2 separate regions of the Homo sapiens genome follow, and region 2 is linked to region 1. Evidence: fine-mapped expression QTL. A gene starts in region 1. The other region holds a variant in brackets. All regions are shown on one strand. Distances are between the middles of the regions. Region 1 holds the start of DENND11 (DENN domain containing 11). Region 2 has its middle 4.0 kb from the start of OR9A4.

What was found. PIP is the estimated chance that this variant, and not a neighbour inherited with it, causes the effect.
Region 2: its variant is fine-mapped to the expression of DENND11 in whole blood (INTERVAL, PIP 0.97).

The regions. Positions count from the first base shown.
Region 1 is chr7:141,700,619-141,703,531 of GRCh38, forward strand. DENND11 (DENN domain containing 11) reads right to left here and starts at 1,548. Exons shown (of 9, transcript NM_001080392.2): 1 at 1,268-1,548. The coding sequence starts at 1,535.
Region 2 is chr7:141,910,953-141,913,865 of GRCh38, forward strand. It overlaps the pseudogene OR9N1P. Among named protein-coding and RNA genes, the nearest start is that of OR9A4, 4.0 kb to the right of the region's middle. The variant A/G (reference allele first, on the strand shown) is at 1,417.

The sequences.
Region 1 (2,913 bases):
TGATAGATCAGTCAAAAGAGTTTGAAAGCCATGGAATGTGGCAAAGAAACAAGCAGAAGTCACAAAGGCCTGAATTGTCCCCACAAACTCTGTCCCTGCAAATGGAGCTCCACAGTGAATCCCACATTCTTCCTGTGTCCTACAGCTGAGAACCCCAAAATTACCGGCCTGGAACCCATCATCAGCTGCCATACCAGATTCCCCTTCTCCAGATCCTAACCCCTTTTTTTCTCCACTCCATCCCACCTCATCCCAGAAAGCAGCCAATATTTTCCCGCACGAACAGGCACTCCACACTCCAGCAGCTGCCCTGGAGACATTGACAGTCACACCTGGGTTTCCTTAAGCCCTGACACCACGACTCCTGCGATGACACCTCCTTCCCCCAACCCCGAACAGCAGAGCCACTCTCAGAGTCAGAAGTCCCTAGCTGACCCTCCAAGGCTTCCTGGGCGCGCAGGGTCGTTCTTCCACCTTCTGTCCCCCGTGGACTCTCACCTGGAAAACGCACACCCCCCTGCCGGGTGGTTAGGCTAAGATTATGTGGGATAAGACTTTAATTCTCCAAGCATCTCCGAAAGACAGCCTATCCGGGGAGGCTTCTCCTTTAATCAGCCTTCAGCTGAATCCCTCAGCCCCATCCCTTAATGCTCCCGGCGTTAATTCCTCAAAATAATGCAGTCAGAGAAAGTGAACTTGGCCGCTAGGAAAGTTACCCCAGAGGAAGCGACGGGGAGCTAGGGCGAGCGGGGAGCGGGGGACGGGGTGGGGGGCGAGCGGGGAGCGGGGGACGGGGTGGGGGGCGAGCGGGGAGCGGGGGACGGGATGGGGGGCGAGCGGGGAGCTCAGGGCGCTCGCCCGGGGGGTTTCCTCCGCACAACGTGAAAAATCTTCTAGCCCCCAAGAAAAGAAAACAAAACCCAACGTGGCCACAAACCGGATGCCCTGTCACTGAAGTGCGAACACCACTGTGGGGCTGGGACTCAGAGGAGAGGAGGGGAGGGGAGAGGAGGTCGGCGGGGCTGGAACAAAGCCCTCGGGGCCGCTCCGAGAGGCCGCGCGCCAGCACCCAGCTGCGCCCCGAGGGAGAGAGCTGAGGACTGGCCGACCCCCGCCCTTCCCCAAGCCCGGGAGCCCGGGGCCGGCCCTGGTGCGGGGTGCGGGGCCGGGAGGGCAGGTGCGCGCGCAGCGAGCCCCTCCCCCGCGCCCCCAAAGCTCGGGGGCACCCCGACCCTCCCCACGCGCCTGGCCCCGGCGCGGCCCTCACCCGAGCGGGGGTCGAAGGTGACCACGAACACGGCCACCACCTGGTCCTCCTCCACGTCGCCCAGCTCCAGGCGCCCGGGCTGCAGCAGCACCTCCGGGGCGGCCGGCTCCTCGGGCTCCCGCCTCCGGGGCGGCTCCGCGGCCGGCCGGGCGCCCCCGCCGCCGCCCCGGCCCCAGCCTCCCGCCTGCGGCTGCGGGGCCTGCGGCAGGGAGACGGCGGGGCCCTCGGCCCAGCGCAGCAGCGGCGCCGCGTCTCCCTGCTCCACCATGGCTAGGCGAGGCGGAGCCGCGGGCGCGAGGGGCGGGGCGGGCGGGCTGCGGGAACCCCCCTCGCCTGGCCGCGCCAACGCCGCCGCCGCCCGCCGGGTCTGGCGCTGCCCGGGGCCCCGCCGCGGAGGCGCCTTTCCCACGGAGCCAGAGCAGGCGTCCGCGGAGCCGGCTTCGGGAACCGCGAGCCTATTCGGAGGCGCCCGTGTGCACGTCCGTGTGTGGGACGCGTGCGGCCGGAACGTTCATCCTTGCGTCCATACACCTGTGTGCGGGTGGAGGTGCCTTCTCACCTAGGGTTCCGTGGTATAGCTACCACTGTGAGTTTTTATGTCACCATTATTTTTTAAAGTCCGCTGGTCCTGTGGACCGTGACAGATATGTATTACATAATCCTGGATGTGTGGCAGAAGCTGCTTCTAAGCAGAGGAGTGAAGCAGAGGTGCTCTGGCTACCCAGGTGTTTGCAATATACTCATCAATAAACACTGAAAAGGCCATAGGGTTAAAGTTTGGGAATTTTGTTCTTCCTTTTATATTACAAACTGATTAGGATGGAGATTATGAGTTTATTTCCTGGTATATATACAACTTGAGGGTATTAAATTAGGAGGTGCTGGAGCATTTGTGGGACGAGGGATATTCCCTCAGAAGATCAGGAAAAGGAAGTTGCTCAGGGGAGAAAGAGGAAAGTCAGCTCTAAAGCTGATGGCTTTGGAAATGGATTAGGGGTTTTCTGTGAACCCCCATTTTATATTTAAAAATAAATTTTACATGCCTCAATCCTTGAGGTAAATCTAGCAGCTAAGTAACTCTTTAAGAGGAGATGTGTATAAAAATAGGAATAGCTATTAAAATAGAAAGAAGGAGGTGGCAAGAGAAGGAGGTACACAGTTCATCCAGGGTTCAGCAAGGCTCCATGGTTTGCCTGTTCGCAAAAGGACCCAGTAGAGCTATGTGCTGGGTGCTACTCCACGGGATGTTTATGAACCTCCGTGTCCTACACGTCAGCACTGCAATGATAATGTGATTTAACCCCTATCCCTAAGAAGATAATCAATGACTGCCCTAGGCTGCCACTTCTAATCTAAAATCTATGATATAACAATAAAGAATGTACTTATGCAGCATTTTACCCCCAAGAACAGGGTCTACTTTCATTATTTACATATTTAGTTCAGCCTTTCCTGAAAGGTAAAACTTCAGCATAGGAATCTCTTGATTGGATCAGAAGGATGAAGAAGTAGCTGTGGATGTTTGACCAAGTTACTGATGACCTCCAGAGCTCATCCCTTGGAGCACTGACAGCAAATAAGTCAAGACGGAGCACAGTAGAGATCCATCTCTGAGAATGTCTCCTCCATACCTGCTCATTTCTTCC
Region 2 (2,913 bases), 210 kb after region 1:
AAGGAAAGAAGTAACCACATCTAAGTAGGATTTGCTAAAAATACTTTTGTATAACTGTTGAGATGCAGTAGGTTTTTGTATGACACGGACATAATAGGTAGAGAAGACAGTTTAGTTCCATTCAGGATGGAAGACATAAATGAGCAGGTTGTGATCAAGGAAGTACTTAGGGTATCTGGTCAGAGCAGAGTTGGAGCTGAGATGTCCAGTGAATTGAGAGACAACAGTGCGTGCTGGGGTGGATGGGTTTTCATGCCTGTGGTGCAGTGTTGGTGACCAGTGCTTATCTTCTTGGACATATACATTTATCTACCATTCTACCTACCTATCTATTCTTCATAAAACATTTAACATCAACCTTGTATAGAGTCATGGTGTGGAGCCTAGAAGCCGGAGGGGAATATTTTCTCAATCTGGAAATGTCTTTAGTCCTTTTGTGATCAGAAGCAGTCTCATTTTTTTTTTTTTTTGGCTCTTTCCATTTCACAAGGAGCAAATCCTCAGGACTAAATATGTGGGAGTCACAGTGGTGTTACTGAATTTTGTCTCTTAGGCTTCCCTGGCTCCCAGTAAGTATGCCATTTGTTACCTTCTTCCTTTGTCAGTGATTGTAATAAGAAATTATGTAATCATCATAGTATGTGTTGAGAAATGCCTGCTGTTCCTCCTATATTTATTCTATGGTGACCTCTCTGTCATGGAAATCCTTATCACATATACTGCTGTTCCCTTGATGCTCAGGGGTTGTTACTTTCCATGATTCAAACAATACCTTTAATGACATGTGCTGTCCAACTCTATATGAACTTTTTTGGGGGTACACAAAATTTGCATTACTGGGAGTGATGACTGTGAACCATTATGTGGCTCTCTGTAACTCTTTGAAGTAAAACATCATTATGAGCAGACACACTGCATCTGGCTGGTAATTGTATTATTGATTGGGTTCCTTTCTGAAATCTGGTCAGTCTATGCCACATTTCAGCTCCCTTCAAATCAACTCAAAATGAATTAAAAACTTAAATGCAAGAGCTGAAAGCTGAAACTGCCTTAAAAAGAGGGATATCTTGCCATATTTGACAACAAGGATGAACCTAGAGGACATGCTAAGTGAAATAAACAGAAGGACAATATCCCACAAATGTAAGGTACCTAAAATAGTCCAACTCATAAGAGCAGAAAATAGAATGGTTTTTCCAGGGAAAAATGGGGAGTTGCTGTTCAATGGGTATAAAGTTTTAATAATACAAGAGAGTAGCTTCTAGAGATCTGATGTATAACATTGTGCCTATAGTTAACAATACTGTATTGTGCACTTAAAAATTTGTTAAGAGGGGTAGATTTCATGGTAAGTCTTCTTACCGCAATAAACAACAACAACAACAGTAACAATAAAGGGGCAGGAATAACTCCTTA[A/G]AAATGATTAATAGGGCCGGGTTCAGTGGCTCACGCCTGTAATCCCAGCACTTTGGGAGGTCGAGGCAGGCGGATCACTTGAGGCCAAGAGTTCAAGACCAGCCTGGCCAACCCTATCTCTACTAAAAATACAAAAATTAGCCAGGCATGGTGGCGTGCGCCTATAATCCCAGCTATTCCAGAGGCTGAGGCACGAGAATCACTTGAACCTGGGAGGCAGAGGTTGCAGTGAGTGGAGATCATGCCACTGCACTCCAGCCTAGGTGACAAAGAGAGACTCCATCTCAGAAAAAAAAAAAAAGTGATGAATAGGTTTATTACCTTAATTGTGGTGATGGGTTCATAGATGTACACTTATTTCCAAGTTCATCAAATTGTTTACTTTAAATGTGTGCAGTTTTCTCTATATCAACCATTCCTCAATAAAGCTGTTAAAAATTTAAAAATCTACCGTAAGCAAGACAGTATGTTTTGGGCAAAAGAATAGAGAATTAGATCAATGAAGCATAACAGAGAGCCCAGAAATAGACCCACACAAATATAGTCAACGAATCTTTAATAAAAGAAGAAAGGCAATCCAATGAGAAAGGATAATCTTTTCGACAAATGTTGCTGGAATGACTGGAAATCCAAACCAAACAGACAAACAAAATTTAGACACAGACTTTATACCTTTGGCAAAAAATTAACTCTACTTGGATCATAAACCTAAATGTGAAATGTAAAGCTTTACAACTCTAAAACAAAACATAGAAAAACCTAGGTGACCTTGGCTTTTGTAGTGACTTTTTAGCTACAATACCAAAAGCACAATATGTGAAAGAAAGACTTAAGAGAATGAGAAGAAGAGACACAGTTTGGAAGAAAATACTTGCAAAACACATACACATTACAGAACATGTATCACAAATATACAAAAACCTCAAAACTCAACAAGAAACTACTTGGTTACAAAAATGGGGAAATATCTGAATAGATCACTAAAGAACATGTATAGATGACAAATAAGCATGTGAAAAGATGTTCCACATCATATATCATCAGGGAATTGGAAATTAAAACAACAATGAGGCCAGGCATGGTGGCTCATGCCCATAATCCTAGCACTTTGGGAAGCCAAGGCAGGTTGATCACCTGAGGTCAGGAGTTCGAGACCAGCCTAGCCAACATGGCAAAACCCCACCTCTACTAAAAACATACACACACACACACACACACACACACACACACACACACACACACACACACACACCCTGGCATGGTGGTGGGTGCCTGTAATCCCAGCTACTAGGTAGCCTGAGGCAGGAGAATCGCTAGAATCCTGGGGGTGGAGGTGGAGGTTGCAGGGAGCCGAGATAATGCCACTGCACTACAGCCTGGGTAACAGGGTGAGACGCCATCTAAAATAAAATAAAATAAAATAAAATAAAATAAAATAAAATAAAATAAAATAAAATAAAATAAGATAAAATAAAAATAAAATAAAATAAAATAAAA